3 linked regions of the Homo sapiens genome follow. The protein of the gene in region 2 interacts with the protein of the main gene of each other region in a pairwise test. Each region holds a gene or a part of one and is shown on either strand. Other genes may lie near its edges.

Region 1 (4,175 bases), on a different chromosome or scaffold from region 2:
ATTCTATTTGTCCTGAAAATCCCAGTAGGTGGCAGCACCGATGTTCACAGTCTACCCCAGCCCTCTGCTAAGGGAACCCAGCTTCTTTGTAACTAACCCCTAAGGGATAATACAGGATGTGCATCACTATGAGGTGAAAGAGTGGGAGGAAGAACAGCACCGCCCAGCGTTCCGGGAGTAAGTGAGCTTTGTGCTTCGATTAGATGACCCCACTAATTTTCCCCACCAATATTGTCTCCATCTTCAGTCTTGGACAGGATAGATACAAAGTTTGTCTTAAAATCCCCTAGTTTGGGGAGGGACCCTCACTAACTGTGTTGCTCAGGATGGTGTTTAACTCCTGGACTCAAGTGATCTTTAAGCCTCAGCCTCAGGAGTAGCTGGGACTCCAGGCAGATGCCACCATGCCTGGCCTTAAATTCTGAATTCCTGAAACCCTACTTAAAGGAATAACTTCCCTATTCTAAATTCTAATTATTGTGGCCTGGCACTCACCTTCTCAGGAGCATTGATGACCCCAGTGTTGTAGCCAAATTGGAAAGAGCCGATTGTAGCAACTGTGATGGCAAATATCAGAGCTGGGGTGACCTGGAGGGAGGGAAGACAGAGGAGAGAATAGTCCTTAAAACTTGTGATTGATGACTGTTTCTTATTAATTATGGAGCTGTATTAGGAGAATTTGAGTTATGAGTGGTATGAAAAGAACATCCAATGAGATTTAGGTAATTAATGGGGAAGACAAAGGAATAGATTATACTAAAGAACTTATCTGGAGATAAGAATGTGAAGTTAACTTGGTAAAAATGAAAGAAAATTGGGGAAGGAAGAAGTTAAGAGAAACTGGGTTGGTCAGTTTGGAAATATTTAAAAACTTGCATCAGGCAAATGTAGGCATAGAATTCCACTCACGAACTGGGAGGGCAGAGAAAAAGACAGTCTCGGGTAGGATTACTAAGAATTGACCATTCTGGAAACAAATACAGTGCAGTCTGATCTGTACCCCAGACTCCACGGAAGCCCACTGGTGGTGGTGGAGGGGGTGGTAGTTTGTGTCTTCACTGCTGGGTGGCTCTTTGAGTCTCTTATCTCTCAGGACCATGTAACCTACTGGATCTACTCACTGCATCCTGGCCCCATTTCAGTCTTCGTTTATTAAATACAGTTCTGCTATCCCTAACTCCCGCGCAGGGGAAGAAAGTACTTACTCTGAACCCAACATATAAGGGCGAACCCAACATATAAGAGACATTTCTTAGTGGGGAGAACCGGTCATCTTCACCTTGCCTGGAATAATTCAGCCGGGCGAGACATTTTCCATTTCTACCTTGGGGCAGCTCAATTTTTATACCTGAGGCCAACTTCTACGCCATTCCCCCCCACCCCACCACCCAAAATCCCTTCAACCTTTCATATCTTAAACTCCTTTCCTTTCAGGTCGGGCAGATTAGGCAGCAGGCTGGGAGCTTCAGCAGGAGAAGTGACCTTGCCTGCAGCCTCCCAGATGTCTCAGTCCCAGCTAAGCATCGGTACCCCGGAGGGCCCTGCCAGTGCAATGCTCTGTTAAATCTTTTTCCGTTTAGTAAAAATCTCTTCTGTCTCCTCTCATCATTCACTATCTTTGAGAGCCTTTTCTTCTTTAGTCTCATAATTTTCCATCCCTTTCTTATTTTCCTACATTTTCTTTCTTTCTGCTTTGTAGAGATGGGATCTCACTATATTGCCCAAGGCTAGTCTCAAACTCCAGGCCTCATGTGATCCTCCTGCCTTGGTTTCCCAAATGCTGGGGTTATAGGTGTGACCCACCACACCTGGCCCCTTATTTTTAGTTAAATTTATCTTGGTAAAAAATGCCTTTCTTGCTGCGCGCAGTGGCTCATGCCTGTAATCTCAGCACCTTGGGAGGCCGAGGCCGGCGGATCGCCTGAGGTCGGGAGTCGAGACCAGCCTGACCAACATAGAGAAACCCCGTCTCTACTAAAAATACAAAATTAGCCGGGCCCGGTGGTTCATGCCTGTAATCTCAGCTACTCAGGAGGCTGAGGCAGGAGAATCGCTTGAACCCGGGAGGCGGAGGCTGTGGTGAGCTGCGGTCGCTCCATTGCACTCCAGCCTGGGCAACAAGAGTAAAACTCAATCAGAAAAAAAAGAAAAGCCTTTCTCCCTGCAAATAATGCATATACAACACTCAATATTTTAGTATGTCCTGCACTCACGATTTTAACCCTAATAGGAAGGACAACTGGAATTCTTTCTCCTTAGCATCCACGAACCCCATATGTTATAGGACAAACAGATGGCCAGACCCTGGCCTGTGCCTCCAAACACAGACCTTTTCAAGGTCTAATGCTTCCAGAGAAGTCTTCACACTGGCTCTGAGACCCACACTTGTAATCCATACAACCAAGCAGCCCGATCCTCTAAACACTCAACCATCTCGTCCTCAGTGGCATATGGTTACCTAAAATAAACCTGAGAAGCAAACACAACTTCTCCGGGTGACTTTCCTATGATAAGGTGAACAGAACTGTATGACATTCAAAGAGAACTGATGAAGCGGCAGCAGTGCAGGCTAGAGACGAAATGAAAAGGCCTTAAGATAGCTTGGTGACTTAGGAGAAAATAGAACAAGGAGATTACCATTAATATTTGCCTTTCTGAGTGTATCCCAAACAAGCAAAAATAACCAGTAATTATATCATTCTTACCTTCTGTGTCCCCATCGCTGTAATCTAATTCAAGTCTTCAAGAAAGATCTAGGGGTGATTCCAGAAACAGCTTTTTCAGCCAACAAAACCTTCAAAATGTCCTTCTCAGCAGCAAGTTTTCTCCACGTCCTCAGGAAGGATCCAAAGTCTTACCATTACAGCATCTCTGGGTCTCGCTGGGATCATGACTATTTATAATCTCCGCAAAGGGTGGAGCCTGAAAGGGCGACAAGCCCCCAGCCCCACCCCACCCCACCCCACCCCCCTGAAGCAATCTTGTGATCTCTCGGAATTCTGTGTTATCAGAACTACCCCCGCCCCCGCCCCACAGACAATAACGCCCTCCCTCCCCCCTCTCTTAAAACCACATCCTTCCACTCTCTCCACCCTGGGTTTTTTTTTTTTTTTTTTTTTCAAAAGCTCATCCTTACTCCTTCCCTCTTCTAATAGCAGCTAGAGCCTCTTAGTTTCACAGACAAAATACTACCAGAAAAGCCTGGAGGGAGGGCAAATACACTATTTTATGCTCTCGCATCTGCTTGGGATTAAAACAATCTACAGAGAGATTAGAATAAATCTATCCATACAAAACGAAGTCAAGTGGGTGCTACTATCAGAGATTTAAGGTTGTTAGAAAGAGTGTTAGTAAGAATTCTTGATCCTATGAATTTATAGGCTGGGTCTACAATCTTTTTTTTTTCTTTTTTTTTTGAGACGGAGTACACAATCTTAAAGGGGAGGGAAAGACAGCCTGAGAGAAGAAAATCAGGGAAATAATTTTGCCAGTGTTCCTTTCTTCGCATAATCTCACCTGGAGGGAAGAAAATCTGAATTTCTAGGAGCCAGACCAACTATCAGGGCAGTAGGAATAAGAGGTTCAACTGTTTATGGAATACAATCCATATCCTTTTTTTTTTTTTTTTTTTTTTTTTGATATGGAGTCTCTCTCTGTCGCCCAGGCTGGAGTGCAGTGGTGCGATCTCGGCTCACTGCAACCTCCGCCTCCCGGGTTCAAGCAATTCTCCTGCCTCAGCCTCCCGAGTAGCTGGGACTATAGGCGCCCGCCACCACGCCCCGCTAATTTTTGTATTTTTAGTAAAGACGGGGTTTCACCATATTGGCCAGGCTGGTCTCAAACTCCTGACCTTGTGATCTGCCCGCCTTGGCCTCCCAAAGTGCTGGGATTACAAGTGTGAGCCACCGCGCCGAGCCCTATATTTAATAAGGCATTTGCCATATCACCCATTCTGAATTCTGCATCACTTTCTGCTAGTCTCAAGCTTATAGCATCTAGAAATGCAATAAATACCGAATTCAATTAAGCAGGTATTTGCCGAATACACGCTATGTATCAGGTACTCTCCAAGAAGCTGGTGATTCTTCAGTGAATAATAGAAAAAAAGGCCGGGCGCGGTGGCTCACGCCTGTAATCCCAGCACTTTGGGAGGCCGAGGTGGGCGGATCACGAGG
Region 2 (3,651 bases):
CCTTTTTCAACTTGAGATTGTCTGCTAGGACCCTTGCTGCTTCACTTTGAGTGTCATCTAGCAGGACTTTGAAGCTAGCTAATTCTGCTTGTGCCTTTTTGCGGTGTTCAACTGCTTGAGCCAGATTTTCTTTGGTTATTTCCAAATCTTTTTGAGATTCAGTTTGAACAAATTCTAGAGCTTTAACAGTTCTCTCCAGAGCACTAATTTTCTCTTGATACCTGATGCAGTCCTTCTGTAGCTGCTTTACTTCTTGTTGTTTTTCTTTTAACAGTTCCTGAAGTTCCTTTGCATGGCTTTTATTTCCGGGTTCTTTCTGAGCACCTTGTATTTTCTCCAAATATTCCTTTCGTATTTCTGATTCCACCTTAGTTTTTTCCTTGACTAACTGCTGCTTTTCTTCTTCCAATTCACTCACACACTTTTTAAGGTTCTTCATTTCAGATTCCAATAGCTCATTTTTTATTTGGGCATCTGTAACATCCTGACAGTAATTCCCAATGCTTCCATTAAGTTCTGCTAATTGATTCATAAGCCTCTCTTCCAAATCATCTTTCTCTTCTTCTGCTGTCTCCTTTAGTTTGGTAACTCTGGAGAGTTCTTCTTGGATTTGCTGATTTAACAGGTTCATTTTGGTTACTTCCTCCTGAAGCATTTTTAGTTCACCATCCTTTGTTGATATCTGACTCAGTAAGGTATTTTTCTCATTTTCTAAAGTCTGGCTAAATTCCTTGTTTTTCTGCTTCTCCTCCTCTAATCCAGCAATTCTTTCTTTGAGCTGATCAATCTGCTGTAGGTAGTTATTAATTTCATCATGTGAGCTGAAATCCTTACTTACAGCAGGGTTGGCACTCTTCGCTGATGGAACCGATTCTGAACATGTAGGTCTTGTGCTCATACTCAGAGAGTCTTGCTCTTCAGTCTCACCTGGTATAGACTGTGTTCCCTCTTCAGTGACATTCGTTTGGTTATCATGTTTCTCGGTGGCCTCTAGGTTAGCTTGTTTAGATACATTACCTTCTATCTGATGCTTTAAATCTTGAACCTCTTCACTTAGAGAGTCTTTCTCAGACATTAAAGACTGAAACTTCTTAGAAAGGGTTTCATACTCCATTTTGACCCTTTCAAGTTCTTCCTTCATGCTGGCATTGGAAGAAAGAAGTGTTTCCATACACTCTTTAGCTGTATCTCCTGCAGGGTGCACCTCTGCCCTAAGCCGGTCATTCTCTTCTTCCAGCTCTAGGATTTTCTGCTGTTTAGATTTAGCAAACTTTCTCATCTTTTCTTTCATTTCCTCCATTTCTTGCTCAGCTTCCTGCAACTGCTTTTCTGTCTCCTTCTTGTTTGCCTCTGTGCTTCTTAACTTGCCATACAGTTCTTGTTTCTCTTGCCTCACAGCTTCCACCACATGCTGAATCCTTTCTGCTTCATTACTAACATTCTCATAGGACTGCAGAAGAATTTCATACTCTTTTTGTAGCTCCTTGTGTTTCTCTTGCCACTCAGTACTTTCTGCAATCTTAGAAGATTTCAAAGATTCAATTTCCTTCACTAACTTTTCCTTGTCTTCAGTAAGACCCTCTAGAGCTAGTTTTAGACTTTCACAGGAGCTGCTGAGACTCTGATTTTCCAATAAAGACCTGTCCATTTCTGTAATGAGTTTGTCTCTTTCTTCTTGAAGAAGAGCTAACCTTCCTAAGACCGTATCTTTTTCTTTATTTTGAGCAGAAACTTGGCTTTCCACATCTGCCAGAGACTTGGTGAGACGTTCAATGGTACCTCTGGCCAAAGACAATTCCTCTTGGAGACTTTTGTTTTCTTTTAGTGCTTCTTTTCGGGAAATAAGGGCAGCTTGCAGTTTCCTTTGTATTTGTTGCTTTGCTCTACTTTCTTCTCCAATCTCTTCTGGTTTTTGCTTCATTTCACAAAGTTCCACCTGTAGCTGCTTTATCCTCTCATCATGCTCTTTGGCTTGCATTTCTAGCTGTGTATGCAGAGCCTTAATTAAATCTTCTTGTTCTATTATCTCTGTCTGTATTTTAGTGAGAGCTGCTTCTTTCTCACTAAGTTGTCCAGAAAGGTAGCTAACGTCTTCTTCCTTTTTGCTTATGAGTTTTTGCAGTTCATCCAGTTTAGGTTGCAATTCTCTTAGATGTTCTAGGCCAGCAATTTGTAGTTGGCTGCTTTCCAATTTCTGCTGCAGGCTTTCGGCATGGACTTCAGCTTCATGGGATACTGTCTTTAGACTCTCGATTTCTAAACCCTGTTTATTTATCTGCTCTTGTAACTGAAATACCTCTTCTGATTTTTTAGTAAGCTCACTTGTTGTAGAACTAACTTTCAATTCTAACTCTACTTTCTCAGCCTCTATTTCCTTCAGCTGGGCCTTAATCTGGGCAACAGAAGTTCCGCCCTGCAGAGCACTCGCATCTTCAGAATGAGAAGGCCAGTCTGGGCACAAGTTGGACTCTAAAACAGGTTGAGTGTGATGCTGTTCTGTGGCTTTGAATAAAGGTTCTTCTAAACCTGGAGTGGAAGAACACGATTCCTGCTGGTCTGTGCTTGGGAGTTTTCCGTCTATGGATTCCCTTACTTGAATCTGGAGTTGCCTTAGCTGGTCTCCAATATTCTCATTTTCCTTGCTTTGCTCATCAAACTGTTCTTGCAAGCGATTATAGTCATCTTTCTGTTGCTTTAGCTCCTCCCTGAGATGTCTTTCTTTCTCCTGTGCCTTTTTAAGAATTGCCTTGCGGGAGGTTAAGGCTTCCTGTAGCTTCTTTTGAAGTTGCTCCTTTTCTTTTTCAAGGGCCAGTATCTTTTCTTCTAGTTCTGGTTTCCAGTGTTCACTACTACCTGTACAAGGTGGACTTATCACCACTGTTTCCTTTACAAGTGCTACGGAGTCCCCATCACTTGCATCCGTGTTACTTGTGATTAACTTCTGGATAATTGCTTGGTTTTCACTGATTTCTGCTTGGAGCAAATCTATTTGGTTTGTTTTATCTTGCAAGGTCTGATTCATCTGTTTGACCAGAGCCTGGAATTGCTCTTCAGCTGCCAGCTTTTCTTCCAAATCCTTCCTTATATGCTGTAGTTCCACTTCTTTCTCAGATATTGTCTGTTTTAAATAAATTTCTATTTCTTGGCACTTAGAAGTCACACATTTTTCTGAGTATTCTTTGTTTTCTTTATCTTCTTCCACTTCTCCCCTCTCAGTCTCACTGAGTGGGATTTCTTTCTTAGATTCATCTTTCAAGTTGGCTAATTCTTCTTCCAATCTACTGACTCTTTGCAGAAGCTCCTTTCTGTTAATAAGAGCTGCCTGGAGCTTTCTCTTTCTCTGCTCATTTTCTTTCTTCAGAAGGTCAAATTCATGCTGAAGTTCTTCCTTACTTATTTGTCCTGCTGGGCTCATCTCATCATAATTTTGTTTAAGGCCAGAAGAAACTTCATTATCTTCTTCCACCTGCTCTTTTTTTGCTTCCTCAGCTCTGGATAATAAATTTAGCTGTTCTTTAAGAGTCTTAATTTCAACCCCAAGAGAAAACTTCTCTTCATTAAGCTGAACCATTTTCTCAGTCATACTAAAGCTGATTTCTGTCACTTGTTGATCCTTCTCCTCGATGGTTTGTTGGAGGGTTTCCACATCTC
Region 3 (3,651 bases), on a different chromosome or scaffold from region 2:
GTACCACTAAAGATTGATGGTTTCCAGCTTCACCTAAACAGGAACAGGGTTCTTTCTTTTTCCTATGAATGCCTCTGCCAGGTCTCTGTCACCTTCCATCACACTCGATAGACTGTCTTACCACTTGATAAGACTTGGATGCCCTGACAGGTCTGTTCCAACAAACAGCACAAACACACACACTCCCACCCACCTGTCTTTTTTTCCCCCCAGGCTCACTGATGGGATCTTACTTTTACTATAGAAAGTGAAGTGAACCCATTCAGCTGGGCCCAGTGGCTCACATCTGTAATCCTAGCACTTTGGGAGGCCGAGGTAGGCAGATTGCTTGAGTCCAGGAGTTCGAAACCAGCCTGGGCAACGTGGTGAAACCATATCTCTACAAAAAATACAAAAATTAGCTGTGTGTTGTGGTGCATGCTTGTAGTACCATCTACTTAAGAGGCTGAGGCAGGAAGATTGCTTGAGACTGCGAGGTGGAGGTTGCAGTGAGCCGAGATTATGCCACTGCACTCCAGCCTAGGCAACAGAGTGAGACCCTGTCTATAAATAAATAAATAAATTGTATTTTGCTAATACATACATAATAAAACATAGTTTTGTACCTTGTGTTTCTAAAAGGTACTGCCCCATGCTCATGAGATTTTGAAACTTAGGTACATAATACATTTCTAATGGCATATACTTTTGTATAACCCCCTTAGGAGCCAAGTTTTCTATAATGCACTAAAAGATATAAAAATGCATATGCCTTTTGTCCTCATATCTACCCCAGAGAATTTTCTCCAAGGGAATAATTCAGGAGGTTTTTATTAAATCATTACTATATTCTAAGAACCATGCCAGGCGTGAGAGTTACAGAAATGTAGAGAAGACACTTATCATGTACTCATGAAGGTGTCATCAAGTCATCTAGTGGAGGTTAGAAAAGGCTTCAAGGTAGAACGAACTGCTTGAGATGGCCCTGAAAGGATGAGTAGAGTTAGCCAAGCATGTGCCAAGAGATAATGGTATGATACATCACGGGTTGTTCTGTTTATAATTATCTTAGTGCGTCTGGACATAGGATTCATACAGGGAAATGTTAAGAAATAAAGTTGAAAAAACAAACTATATTATAGAATGGTTTATATATAGGTCCAAGAACTTTGGAATTTTTCATGAAGGTGATAGGGAGCTTTTGGAGAACAACAAAGAGAAACACAATCAGATTTGCATTTAGCTGACTTTGTGTAGGTTCAAATAGAGGTTTAGAGTAAGAAGAATTAGAGGAGCACTGTAGTCGTCCAAGCAAGGGATTTAGAGTACCTGAGTTAAGGGAGAGGAAGAAGGTACAGTAGAGGAAAAATCGAATCAACATAGCTTTAATAGATTTGGGGAAAAAATGGGTTATATAATACATAGTTATTTGTGATGGCAACATTTTAAACAACCTAACTGGATAAAAGACTAAGTTGGGAGAGGAGAAGTGAGGATAGAGTGGGGTAGAATAAGCTATGCTTTAAAATCACATGTTACAATACATATTATTCTTGGTTTTGTTTTTTTAATGTTAAGTATATAAAAATTCCCTTCTTTTGGACAGGTATTTAGCAGTGTTTTTTTTATGGAACTCCTACCTTTACCATACAGCTTGTATAAAAAAACAAAATTTAACCAGCCATCTAATTTTTTTAAACTTGAATACCATATTTGAAATGATACAAAAGCAGCAGGATTCTTTATATTAATAATTAATAATTCAGCAGGAAACATACTATACTATTATACTTATATATAAAGAAAGTAGAAAATCATTTGGTTAAATTGAAGACTATATAGTTGTCAGAACATTACAAACATTACATTTGTGATTTTCTTTATGCTGTCGTGATGAGACTTCAAACATGTCAAACAGAGAACAGAACTGTCTCCTCCTTGCTTCTCACTTAAGCCAAAGCATCTTCCTCCCCTCAACCTCATGTTGGCCCTGTGCACCCTGAAAGGAAGTTGCACTTTTCTTTACTGCCGAGTTGTCACTTTTAATACCTAGACATCTTGTTGAAGTCTGGCTCTTGTTAAAATATTCTATCAGAGAAAAACAGTTTTTCTGTGCTAGCAAAGAACCAAATTTTCTTCCCTTTTGGTTTGATTTTTATAAATCCTTTAAAAGAAATCTTTAAGTAAAAATATGTTTGTGAGTGTGTTTGGGTCTTTGTCTTGAAGTAGTGTAAAATTTTATTTAAAATGAAGGTAAAATGAATTATGGCCTATGGTATAAAGATGGTTAAATAGCAACACAAAAGAAAACAAATAAGCCCCCATCAGCAAAGGTCTAAACAACAAAATGTTCAAATAAACCTGTTATTCTGAAATATGTAATAATAGAGTTTCTTTATAATATTGATGCTGAAGCACTATAGGATCCTGAAATTAACATGTTGAATTAACAAATTATGTACCGCATAGTTTATTATTGAGTGTATTTCTAGTATTCTGTTTTACCATTAATAATCAATTTATGAGATTTTTACAATCTTGATTAAATGCAGCCTTTAAAGAGAATTTTGGACCTCCATCTTAGCGTAAAAAGTTTTTAAACAAGCTGTTTGTTCTAAAAAAGACAAATAGATATGCCCTACAATCTATAACTTCAGTATAATCTCATATATTTCTACATCTAATGATGAGGTACTAAATGTGATTACACGGTAATTCAATGAACTTTTTTTTTTTTTTTTGAGACAGAGTCTCGCTGTGTTGCCCAGGCTGGAGTATAGTGGCGTGTTCTTAGCTCACTGCAGACTCAACCCCCTCCAAGCTCAAGCGATCTTCCCACATCAGCCTCCCAAGTAGCTGGGGCTGCAGGCATACACCACCACACCTGGCTGATTTTTGCATTTTTTGTAGAGCCGGGGTTTCACCATATTGCCCAGGCTCATCTCAAACTCCTGGGCTCAAGCAGTCTGCCCACCTTGGCCTCCCAAATTGTTGGGATTACAGGTGTGAGCCACTGCGCCCAGCCAAATGAACTTCTTTTAATTCAAAATCATTAAAAACAGAAGACTCATGAAAAACAGAAAATTACTCTGACAAATTTGATAAAGATACTTAATAATGTCAATTAAAACGCAACTAAATAAATTGGAGAAATTACTCATATTGCTACAACTTATTTAAGGAGAGTTTAATTTTATAAAATAAATTTCAAGTGAATAGATGATTAGGATAACCAAAATATTCCTCTTTTTCTCTGACAAGCTTCTGGATACACAGATGACTATACATAGTTTTCCTAGTGGTTTTTTATAACCACTAAGTCACTAAGTAAATAACTAAACTGTATTCCTAACCATTCTAGTTATATTGCTATTTGATTGTTTAATATTTGAAAATGTACTTTCCTACTATAGATTAAGGGATCTGGTGAAACATTTACTCCATCTACTTTCTATTAGTAAAATACAATCTTCTTATTTCATTTTCTTATATTCATGACTATGAGGGCAACTTGTTAGTAAGTACTCAAATATCTGTGTAATGAGGCCAAGCACGGTGGCTCACGCCTGTAATCACACCACTATGGGAGGCCGAGGCAGGTGGATCACCTGAGGTTAGGAGTTCGAGACCAGGCTGACCAACATGGTGAAACCCCGTCTCTACTGACAATAC

What was found.
Region 1: the proteins of GOLGB1 (region 2) and SLC2A3 interact in a two-hybrid assay, tested with the Homo sapiens proteins (one large-scale study listed by IntAct).
Region 3: the proteins of GOLGB1 (region 2) and CEP126 interact in a two-hybrid assay, tested with the Homo sapiens proteins (one large-scale study listed by BioGRID and IntAct).

What each region holds. Positions count from the first base shown.
Region 1 is NC_000012.12:7,933,315-7,937,489, forward strand, and holds the start of SLC2A3 (solute carrier family 2, facilitated glucose transporter member 3), read right to left. Parts: upstream 2,874-4,175; 5' UTR 2,721-2,873; coding exon 2,706-2,720; intron 589-2,705; coding exon 496-588; intron 1-495. UniProt on the Homo sapiens protein: Facilitative glucose transporter. Can also mediate the uptake of various other monosaccharides across the cell membrane. Mediates the uptake of glucose, 2-deoxyglucose, galactose, mannose, xylose and fucose, and probably also dehydroascorbate.
Region 2 is NC_000003.12:121,694,198-121,697,848, forward strand, and holds part of GOLGB1 (golgin subfamily B member 1), read right to left. Parts: coding exon 1-3,651. UniProt on the Homo sapiens protein: May participate in forming intercisternal cross-bridges of the Golgi complex.
Region 3 is NC_000011.10:101,917,902-101,921,552, forward strand, and holds part of CEP126 (centrosomal protein of 126 kDa), read left to right. Parts: intron 1-3,651. UniProt on the Homo sapiens protein: Participates in cytokinesis. Necessary for microtubules and mitotic spindle organization. Involved in primary cilium formation.